Regions from separate parts of the Homo sapiens genome. Here all the other regions are linked to region 4. Evidence: fine-mapped expression QTL. A gene starts in region 4. Each other region holds a variant in brackets. All regions are shown on one strand. Distances are from middle to middle. Region 1 overlaps TSPAN11 (tetraspanin 11). Region 2 overlaps TSPAN11 (tetraspanin 11). Region 3 has its middle 63 kb from the start of TSPAN11. Region 4 holds the start of TSPAN11 (tetraspanin 11).

Evidence for each region.
Region 1: its variant is fine-mapped to the expression of TSPAN11 in prefrontal cortex (GTEx, PIP above 0.99).
Region 2: its variant is fine-mapped to the expression of TSPAN11 in nasal epithelium (TOPMed, PIP above 0.99).
Region 3: its variant is fine-mapped to the expression of TSPAN11 in spleen (GTEx, PIP above 0.99).

Annotation. Positions count from the first base shown.
Region 1 is chr12:30,974,456-30,977,138 of GRCh38, forward strand. All of the region lies in intron 3 of TSPAN11 (tetraspanin 11), which reads left to right. Among named protein-coding and RNA genes, the nearest start is that of TSPAN11-AS1, 30 kb to the right of the region's middle. The variant A/G (reference allele first, on the strand shown) is at 1,556.
Region 2 is chr12:30,951,260-30,953,942 of GRCh38, forward strand. All of the region lies in intron 1 of TSPAN11 (tetraspanin 11), which reads left to right. Among named protein-coding and RNA genes, the nearest start is that of TSPAN11, 26 kb to the left of the region's middle. The variant C/T (reference allele first, on the strand shown) is at 1,247.
Region 3 is chr12:30,862,309-30,864,991 of GRCh38, forward strand. No RefSeq gene overlaps it. Among named protein-coding and RNA genes, the nearest start is that of TSPAN11, 63 kb to the right of the region's middle. The variant A/G (reference allele first, on the strand shown) is at 1,457.
Region 4 is chr12:30,925,569-30,928,251 of GRCh38, forward strand. It overlaps TSPAN11 (tetraspanin 11), which reads left to right and starts at 1,180. Exons shown (of 8, transcript NM_001370302.1): 1 at 1,180-1,228. LOC124902911 (a long non-coding RNA gene) reads right to left here and starts at 1,121. Exons shown (of 2, transcript XR_007063264.1): 1 at 1-1,121.

The sequences.
Region 1 (2,683 bases), 49 kb after region 4:
TTTAACTAAGGTAACTGTGCTATGCTACTCTCAGATCAGAAAAAGATTAAGCTACTGCCCGCAGCATGGGGCTGGTTATGCTCCAGCCAGTTTCTGCTGTCTCATAGGTGTACTTTATTAGAAAGTGCACTCCTGCGTCTTTATCAGGGGATGTCTGCTAAGCGTTATGTCTAGACCCAGCACCATACCAGGCACTGTGGAGGAGCCAGAAGCAACCTCAGATGTGGTCCCTGTTTCTCCGAAGCTCACAGTCATGCTAGGGGACAGAGTGGTAACACCTGAAGCAAGAGCAGTGCTACGGAGCAATGGGTAAAGTTGTGTCACTCATCCGGTGATGACCTACACTGAGGAACCGCACGGCAGGCGAAGGGGAGGGACACAGAGGTGAAGCCCAGTCCAGCTGAGGAGAGAAGGGCAAAGCAGAGAGTGCAGGTGTCAGGAGACAGCAGATGACGCGCTGCAGGCATTCAGACGGTGGGGAGTGGCAGTTGCTCCTGCCCAAGGATAGCCTGGTGGAGCCAAGACTGAGCCGAGCTGGGTGTGGAAGGACAGGTAGGCACCAGCATTCCAGGCAGGGGGACAGGCAGGGCAAAGGCCCAAAGGCTGGACGCTTGGCCTGTGTGAAGAGAACTGTGTGCAGCAACACCAGGAACACTTTTCAGCTTTGCACACAGAGCCAGCGTGTGCCGCAGGGGCCCTGAGATGATCGCGCCGGACCCAGGGAGTCAGGAAAGGCTGGGTAAGGTGCAGGGTGGAGGGGCAGAGGTGACAGGTCTGTCAGAGCCCATGACCTCACCCGGCTGAAGTCCCAGCATCTTGATGAGGGACCCTTTGCCTGCCTCCTGGGCCTGTCACACACCTGTCCAGGTGAGTCACACACCCGCAGCCTCCCTGCTGTGGAAGCTGCTGCCTGGAGCCAGCACCTGTGCCCACCAGCACCCGGCCTCAGTCCCCTTGAAGCCCCAGGCCAGGCCCTCACTCCCCTTCCAGGCATCTTAACACACTGGAGCTCGAGAAGGCTATCCCCACACACCACCGCCACTGCCAAGCTCTCTCCCCTCCTCCTGACCACTCCGCAGGTCAGATAGCCTGTTTGATGCCTCTGAACCAGCCTGTGCAGGGGTAGCATGTACTAATTTAGCCAGCCACTAAACCAATGGGTGAGGTTCAGTATCTCTACCTCCCCATCCTCCCTGTTCCCCACCCCGTCTTCAATAGTAACTGGGGCAGTGGCTTCCCCCGAGAAGTGGCGTGACACTGCCAGCTATCCAGGAGTATCCTACGGGCCTGACTCACAGCTCACAGTGGTGGTGGAGAGAAGGAAGGTGGAGAGATGCCAGGATGTGGCTCTCCTAGCTGCCAGCAGCCTGGGTGCTCCTGTCAGGGGCACTCCATCACCTCTTCCTCCCATGCCCCAGAGGTCTCTGGGAGCCACTGGCATCAATGCCTTCAGGTCCTGTGCAGCAGGAGGGATCCGGCCTCAGCACCGTAGCTGAGGATGGTGGAGGGAAGTTTGGAGCAGGCAGGAAGGGCACGCATGTCAGAAAGGAGCCGC[A/G]GGGCCCAGCAGCGCATGGCAGGGGAGAGCCCCTGAGTCAAGGAGACTCAGAAACAAGGATGCCTCACCCTGGGTGGGGTGAGGGTGAATGTGTAGCCATGCTCTGTCTGATGGGCCGGGCTTCTCCCAGGGGGATCACACTCTGGCATGGGCTGGCTACGCCTGCCTCTGGCTGACAGGGACCGTACCCCTCATGCTGTGGGACCTGGAGCTCTGGGAGGGCAGGAGGCGGGTTAGATCACTGGAAAGTACATTTCCCCCTCGTTGGGTCCTCCTTGTCCCTAAACTTTGCGTCCTACACGAGGGGACCAAAGAAGGCTGAAATCCAGCCCATGCAACTCTTGCTGAGCCACGTTTTTCTAATTTGCACCTAAGCACTAGCAGCCATCCAGCTAGAGCCAGCATGTGGTGGAGCCTGGACCCAACCCAAGTCCACTGACATTTCCCCCAGCTTTCCTCAGTGTTTGGGCCCTGCTTCTCAGAGGCTCCTCAAGCAGGAGGACCATCCACAGACGCTCTCTTCAGCCTCCTGCCTCAGCTTACCCTGCATACCACTCAGTACCACACGCAGACCCAGGCCCCTGTCCTGAGGCCCCCTTCAACCACACTCCTCCCCAGGGAGTGGAAAGTCCGTAGGGCAGAGGGAACATCCCCTTGTGGAATCTGCAACTCCCTCCCGCCACTTCCTGACCTCCTCCCAGGGACCCAGGAGAGTGAATCCTCTGTCCAGACAACCTGTGCCTGCAGGCAGCATCTGCAAGCATGTCCTGAGGCTGACTAGACCCCTGGCATATGTGCCCCTAGCCTGCACCACACCCAGCCCTCTCCACACACCTCCCATCCCGCAAGGGGCATCTGACCCTGGGGGAGGGGCACACAGAGCTGGAGGTTTTTCCTGATGCAGCGAAGAGCCTGGGGTAGGAAAGGAAGGGGCAGGGACCTTGCATTTGTGCTCTTGGCCTCAGGCCCCACAAATGATGGGGCTAGGCCTGACACTGTTATTCTGAGACTGGAAACTCTGTGTCCCTGATGCTGGGAGCCTATAGGACACAGTAAAATTGCAATGAGGAGGTGGGTAATGCACTTCATTTGAAAGGAAACCTTGCTCTTGGACCACAGTTCTTTTCC
Region 2 (2,683 bases), 26 kb after region 4:
ATCCTGGCTATACCTAGCAGGACAGGAGGCTGGGAAATGTTGTCTGTTCCAGGTGACTAAGTATCTAACTAAAATTGAGAAGTTCTATTCTAACAAATATTCTAACAAATATTAGGGGAACCAGCAGTCTCTGGTCGCTCCCCTTCCTCCTTTGCCCTGGTAGATCTGGTCCTGTGAGTATTGCACAGTGGGTAAAAGCTTGAGCCCAGAGGCAGAGATTCTTTATTCAGCTCTGGCTTTGTCATGTACTTGCTATGTGACTTTGGATGAATTATTTAACCTGTCTAAACCTCGATTATATTATGAAATGGAAATAACCCTATTTCATAGGGGTATTGGGAAGATGGACCGAAATAATGAGTGTAAAGCACTTAGTTCTGTACCTGGCACATAGTAAGTGTTCCATAAATACTAGCTACACAGGGAGGTTAAATAACTTGCCCAAGGTCACACAGCCAGTAAAATGGCAAAGCTAGCTTTCAGATCCAGTCATCTGGCTGCAGGCTGGTACTGACACTTCTTTGGAGCCTCTGCCACCCTGGGCCCCAAATATGGTGTTAGGGGAAAGGAGCACTGAATGGTGGAGAATAGGAAACTCAACTACAGATTAGCCATGTGACCTTAGAAAAGTCATTTTTAAATATGCATCTTAAATATGTAAAATTCCTCATTCTTTCTGCAGAAGATTGAATTAAGTGAGCCCAAAGGTTTCCCCTGACCCTGACATTTTGTGGTTCTATTTTCCCCACCACTAATGACTGAAATTTTACCATTAGAATGGTTTCTTTTCCTTAAGCCTTGTCTTCTGCCTGAAGTTCTTTTTAAAAAATACAATTTTCCTTTAGAGGGCAGGGCCCTGACTCTGTGGTTTGAGTGAGTGAATCAGGCCTCTTTGCTGCAAGTAGAGAGAAAGCTCTGGGGCAGAAGTCCAGTGGCCCTGCCTGGGAGGGGAGGGAGACTGCAGACAGGAGTGGCCAGGCCCCACAAACTCTGCCACTTGCTAAGGGCCTGCGGTGGCCCAGGAGACGCTGCACCTGGTCTCTTGTCAGGACTGACTGCATAATGGCCGTGAAATCGCTCCCATTAGATCCCCTGGCCGACCCCATCCACGGACATTTCTTACAGGCTTCCTTTTTTTCTCCTTTTATATTTATTCCACCACCCTACCTCGAAAACTGAATTGGAGAAAAATGAGTTTTGTGTTTTCTTAACGAGAAGACTAGCAGTCTTAAATTACCTTCTTCAA[C/T]GTCTGCAAATAGAAATCACAAATAAGTCAGCCACATTGTCTTTTCCCTCTTCCTTTCTTCCTGTCTCAGTGAGCCCATGAGCTTGAAATAAGAGGCAGAACAGTGGCTCAGAGGAAATAATTGGGGCGTGGTCACGCACCAGCCCAGGAGGCAAGAATAGGATGAAAGGATGGTCCAGTTGGGGGTTGGAAATAATGGAGGAAGAGATGGAAATGCTAAATTCCCCTGGCCCGGCATGTGTGTCTTCTCTGCAGGCCCAGCAGCCATGGTCCATTATAAGACTGAACAGGACGACTGGCTGATCGTCTGCCTGAATAAGCATAAGCCATGCCTCATTGCTTATGGTTCTGAAATAAAAAGAGGTTCCCAAAATGGGGGTAATTTCTTAAAGAGCAACTACTCTGTGAGTGTGGGTGTGCAGGTGCCCAGGGGCACATGCAGCTCGAGGAGAAGAGGAAACTACAAAGGCTTCAGACTTTCTGAGGTTCAGACTGAGAAGCAAACAGGATTACCAGGCACAGTAGGCCCTCTCTGCCTGTATCACCACCATTGATGTCATACTTCCCAGAGAGTCCATCAGTGGGCATCAGAGCGAGGGACAGCATGGTGCTGGGGTAAAGACGGGAGTTTTAGGACTAGAGTCTTAGGCTCTAGCCCCAGTTCTTTGACATGTAATAATAGCTAACATTGAACACTTATTACATGCCAAGGACTATGTTAAACACTTCACATAGATTATTTCATTTAATCTTCAAAACAACCCTATGATATATGTGTCATTATTATCCCCATTTACAGATGAGAATGCTGAGGGATGGGAGGTCATGTAACTTGCCCAAAGTATCACACATCTTGTGACAGATCAGGGTGTGAACCCAGAGAGTCAGACTCCAGAGGCTCTTGTGCTTCTTCCTGCCAAACCACCAGGCCTGTCTGGGCCTGCTTCCTCATCTGAAAAGTCAAGCTGCAGCGGCCAGGTGGGGTGGACTGGGTGATCACTGGGGCCCTTTCCAACACAGGTGCTCTGCTCTGGGGCTCAGGCCACACCTGTGGATGCAGAGTCCTGTTCAAATGATGCAGAGTGCAAGTTTCCTATGCAAAGTAGTGATGCTGAGTGTGTGTGTGCGTGTAGGACAGGTAAACTTGTGTCCTGCAACCCTGGTGAGACAGGAAAAGAGATTAAGAACACAGTAAGACCAGCGCAAATTCTGTGGGAGACTTGTAGGTTAGACCTTTGTCAAGAGGACAAAACTGACATCTAAAGGTCTGGAAGATTCTGCCCCAATTCACCTCTATTTGGTCTCCTTAGCAATTCCCACATCTTTGCTCCATGCTGCACATGCAGAGCCTCAAAGCCCCCGGCAGATAGGTTAATGAGCCCTTTGAAGGGAGCCTTGCCAAGATGCTCTGGCTCTGGGAAGGACAAGGTGGTTCTC
Region 3 (2,683 bases), 63 kb before region 4:
GTTCCATGTTTTGTTTCCATCCATGCCTAGCTGGATTGCAAAGTTAAGTTTATAATTATGAAATAAAAACTAAATAACAAAAATAATAATAATAATGCAACCTCAACATTGAGTACCTCAGGGAGGTGTGGTTGAAGGGGTAAGGGGGTGGCCTTCCAGCTTAACACTTAAAATGTTAGAACAAGAATACTTCATTTTCATAATCTAAAAGAAAAAAGAAGACCTTTATTTTTGTCTACTTTGGACACAGTAGGAGGTGAGTAAATGTTTGCTGAATTGAATCAAATTGAACCTACTGAATCTCCCCGTCCGCTGGGACACTAGCTGGGCAGGCTGCCCAGAAGCAGGAATGCAGAGCCTGTGCGTCCAAAGATAAAGTATCGCTCTGCCACAGAGGCTGAGGCATCCCTGGAGAGAAAGAACAGCCTTGCCTGCTAGATTCATTTCTACCATCACCCAGGCCTCCATCCTTACTGGGAGATGCTGGAAATAGCTTCACCTTGCTTCTTAACTGACTCATGGCTTTTGCGTTTCCAGGCAGCAAAATCATATTAGCAGCCCCAAAACCCAATAAGGACCATGTACCCAGTCAAAACTTCTCAACACAAAAGGAGACAAGTAAGACTGGTCAGCTGCATTCTGGTCTCCTCTTAGAAAAATCACTGGTGGCATGAAATCTTTAGTTTATTAACAGACATCTCCTGCATTCTGACAATAGTAGCTCATTCAAAAACAAAAAAAGAAGAAGAAAGCAAATGGTGACCCAGGTTCTGAGGGATGAAACCAAAATTTTATCACAGTAGCTCAGCGCCTGGCTCACTTGGGGCTGCTGGGCAGTGAAAAGATGGAGAACTTTTGACTTTCCAAGGCATGGACTTGAAAGTCACCCACTGTTTCTGTGGTTACTGTATTAAGGCGTTTTAAAAGCAAGTGAGTGCCAAAGATGAAGGTGATGGAGATGCGCAACAAGAAAAGCTGAATCTTTCTCCAGGACTTAGATGAACTCAGTGTGTAACTGGATCCTAACCATCTTCACACAGTCAGGATGGGGAGGGGGATATTTTTACTTATTTTATAAGTAGGTGAGCAGAGCCTGAGGCACCCAGTAACATTCACGCAAAGTCACAGGGCAACTGAGGCCAAGCCTTCACCCAACCTCATCACAGGTGTGAACTCTCCATTCTGAACACATGCCATCCTCCCCTAACCCCCAAAATCATTCCTCCTAAGGAGGAATAAATTGGATATTGGGCCTCAGTTTCTTTGCGGATGCAGGGTGTCATCCAGGACCAATCCTTCATTTTCCTGCAGATGAAATACATCAAGCTTAACTCCCATCCTAGGACTAGGAAAGGACTCACAAGCCTGTGTGGTTCAGAGAAGGCGCAGATCAAAGCACATGACATTGTCATTTCTACAGCCATATGGCACTTGACAGATTTAAAAGCATTTATGC[A/G]CGTTTAACTTCATGAACCTCACAACCTATCCCCCCTTCCCTTGAGTAGGCAGGACTGGCCTAATTTTTCCTGTTTAATAGCAGAGACTCAAACAGCTGGGAACAGGCAGAGTAAAGACAAGAAAGTCTTCTATTCCCCAATCCAATGCTCTTTCTGCAGTGCTTAAAGAGCAAAGCAAAGCAAACTTCTCCAGAGATGCCTCTGCCTCATGACCTTTGCCTGGCCTGAAAGTGAAGAATTCCACTGGGCTACAGTAGTCAAGCACCCTGTTGGGAACATTTCCTCCTGAGCCCCCCCAGTCAGTCCTGCCTTTTAATCATGGCCTCATGTAAACCCTTGCACCCTGTGGGAGTCTCAGCTGGGATCTGAGTTTTTTAAAAAATGGGGCTTCATCCATGTTCACCGTCCCCCACAACACACACGTCCCCTGAACACACATCCTGATCAGTGGCTTCTGGGCACCAGTGTCTGGAAATAACCCCTGCCCTCAGCTTCTTTTTCTGGGAAGCTCCTTCTGTAACTTGCTATATCAACCGTCTCCCATTGTGAGAGGGAAAAGACTGAAGAATCTGTAGGGTATCTGGACAGAGTGCCATTTTATGGTATGTGTGTTTAAATAGCTTTTGCTCCCTGATTTTATGTTGCTTAAGGTTATGTTGAAATTAGCATGTCTAGGAAATAGCAGTGAGGAAAGGTGGCCCAGAAACCTTTTTTAGATAGCATGAAGAATGTTGGCCTGCTTTTAATTCTGTGCATGTGGATATATAACAGTGAATGGGAATTGATAAAATCTGCATTTCCCTACTATCTTTTCTTGCTTGTGCCTAGTAACCCTCAGAGAATGGGGTCAATGTAGGAGCCTCTCGGGAGCACCTCAGTGTTAGCCTTCTCTCTTTTCTGAGCAACCTTACTCTGGGTTACTCAACAGTCCCAAAAGATTTTAATGATGGTGGTTTCCTTCTTAACAACTGAACCTCCAATTCAGAAAGCTCAGCTTTCTCCTCTCTGGGTCATGGCAGATGATCTCACAGTTGTGTGCAAGCCCCATCATTTTTCCCTTCATCTCCCCTTCCCACTCCTACCCACAGGGACCCACTCAAATGTCCTTTCACTGAAGAATACCTAACATTTTTGAGAATGTATGTGCTTTTATTTAATAAGAGTGATATTGGGTTATATATCTCACTTTTTCATTCAACACTACCTTTTTGAAGATCTTGTCACTA
Region 4 (2,683 bases):
TTGCATTTGCTGGATATCTGCCCCTGGAAGAAGGTGGCCTGCTTCTCCAATCCAACTTGCTCCACACTAAACTCAGTCACATCACTCCAGGTTCTCCTCCAGACTTCCACAATGTTACAGCCCCAGTGTGCTCCTCCTACACCACACAGTCTGTAGACTCTCCTTTGCTGCAGCTTCCGCATTCATCCCCCAGTTAAGGTCCTCATCTCACGGGACTATTGGAATCATCTCCTTCCTGTGTGGCCCCCCGCGAAGCCCTTCTCAGCAGCCAGCTGGGGTATTTAGAACGTTGGTGCTCCCGGTACAGTGGCTTTGTCAGCGTCCCCTGCCTCCAGTGGCTTCCCTGATCTAGCAACCTGGTAAATGGGTAATCTTCCTCACTGCAGCTAAGTTTCAAAAGAACACGGTTGGATAAGCACAAGGCCCTTGTTACTTTGGGAAATAGATAATCCATGCCCCACTGTTAGGGCCAGTCCCGTTAGGGCCAGCTTTGCACCTTCACAGGGACTCAGCAGGAACAGATGGGCTCTACTCTCTGTTATTCCTTTTTGCTTCAGATTAGAGAGACCTTGATTCTCCCCGGGGCCCAGGAAATGTAAAGCTGATGCTCCACAGGACTCTAAGAGGGACACGGCAGTGATGGGGGCTGGTGAGGAAGGGGGATGGAGAACCTCTCTCTTATCAGACAGGCTTGTCCCTAGGGTCCCTGGAAACCCCCAAAGGCCAACCTCTCCCAGGGGCCGACAAACGTAAAGGGCAGGGAGACCTAAGCGGGGAGCTGCGGAGCGCGGGGAGTTTGAAAGCCGCTCCACCGCCCTACTAGTCCGTCCTTTTGCCCCGCCCCCCTTAGGGATCCCCCCGGCAACCGCACAGCTGCCTCGGACTCTGACTTAATTCCCTCCGCGTGCTCTGAATCGCAGAGAGGCAAACCCCCAAACAAAGAGCCGGCAGCTCGCGTGCGGGGCTCCCGGGCGCGTCCTGCCGGCTGGGCTGGGAGAGCCGGCGCCGGGGCGTCGCGGCCGAGCGCTGGGCAGGCGGGGACTAGAGGGCCGGCAGGAAGCCTCAGTGGGCGCAGGGGCGCGGGCCGGGCTGCCCACACGCTGACCTTCCCGGGCTGGGAGGGAGGAGCGCTGGCTGCGGGCGGTGGGCGGCTGGGCGGCCCCGGGAGCCGCCGCTCTCAGTCTCTCTAGGCGCAGCTCCCTTCGCCGCTTCCGGAGCCCCTGGCAGGGTAAGTGCAGAAGCGCGCCCGAGGAGTGGGGGCGCCGCGGGAGGGGGCTGGGGGTCCAGGAGAGGCGCCTCCACCTCCGCTGCCCGCCCCGCCGGCAGTCCCGAGCTAGACTGTCCCGAGCTTCCCCCGGGCGGGCAGAGGGAAGCCGGCTGGGGATGAGGAGTGGAGGAGGCAGGAATGCCTGGGACACTCGCGGGGCATGTGAGCAGGTATTGGTGTCTGCATGGGACACGCAACACGGTGTCCATAACTATGCGCATGAGTCTGCCTTTCTGCACTTGTGCCTTGGGAGAGAGCTCTGGGCCTCTGAGGGCCTCGTGCCGTCCAGCGTGCCCGGGGCATGTCTGTTCCTCTTGAAAATGTCATTCTTTGTCCACCCTGAATTCGAGTAGCTGCCTCTCATGGCTACACCAAAATGCTGTATCTGGTGCACATTGCTTTCAGAGGGCCTGTCTGCCTGTGCAGGGATGTCCTCATGTTCTGGGCACGTCTGTGTATTTGTGACAACATGGCTGTGTAGGCCCTGTCACCTGTGTTTTCGTGCCCATCCCTGCATGTGCAGTTGGCCGGCTCCGTGTGGAAAGAAGGCATGGAAGGTTCTGGGGTGTATCCTTTTCACCAGCCATATGTGCAGTGTGCACATGTGTGAATTGGTGGAAAGTATGAAAGGGAGGCAGCCCAGTTGGGCTTGGCGGGACAGCATCTTAACTTGAGTCTAAGCTGCTGTGTGCAGGAGGAATAAGTGTTCCAGAGGTCTCCAGTTCGTGGCAAGTATTGTGAGGTGAGCGTGGGGGTGGGGGGTGAGGAGAAGAGGCAGCTTCTGGAAAAACTCATAAGTGCACTCTGGGGCATAGGGTGTGTGTGGGGGAGCGTGAAGAAGAGAATGAGGGTGGTATTAGGCCAAAGTGGATAGTCTGTGTTCAATTTGTGGGCAGCTGGATTGCAGTGGAAAGCAGCAGTTAGAGGCTGGAGACAGGTTTGAATCAGAACTTAATGGTTGTCACTGTGTCAGTAGCATTGTTCCCTGGACAGATAGGTCATCTGGGGCTCAGTTGCTTTTTGTGCAAAATGGGACTAATAACCACTGGCCCCATCTGTCTCCCAAGGGACTGGAGGCTCCAATTAATGCCTGGAAATGCTTTGATGATAGTTAAGACTCCTAGGGTAAGGGGCACTACTGGCCTACAGGGGCCAAGTTGGTGGTCTGGCGAGGGCTTAGGTGGCCCAGAGCTGTTTGGTTTGTGGGTAGCAGAGGGAGGCATTTGTGTGCTGTTTCCCACTATATTCAGCATAGCAGGAATTTTATACCCACCTTTGGACTCGTGTGTAAAATATGTACAGGCCTGTGTGATTCCCCATAGTTCTTGTGTGAGTGCTGCAGAACAAGAGGAAAACTGGCGTTGATGTCTTTAAGTCTGCCTAGAGCACCTTGACTTTCCAGAGAGCCTTTCTTCA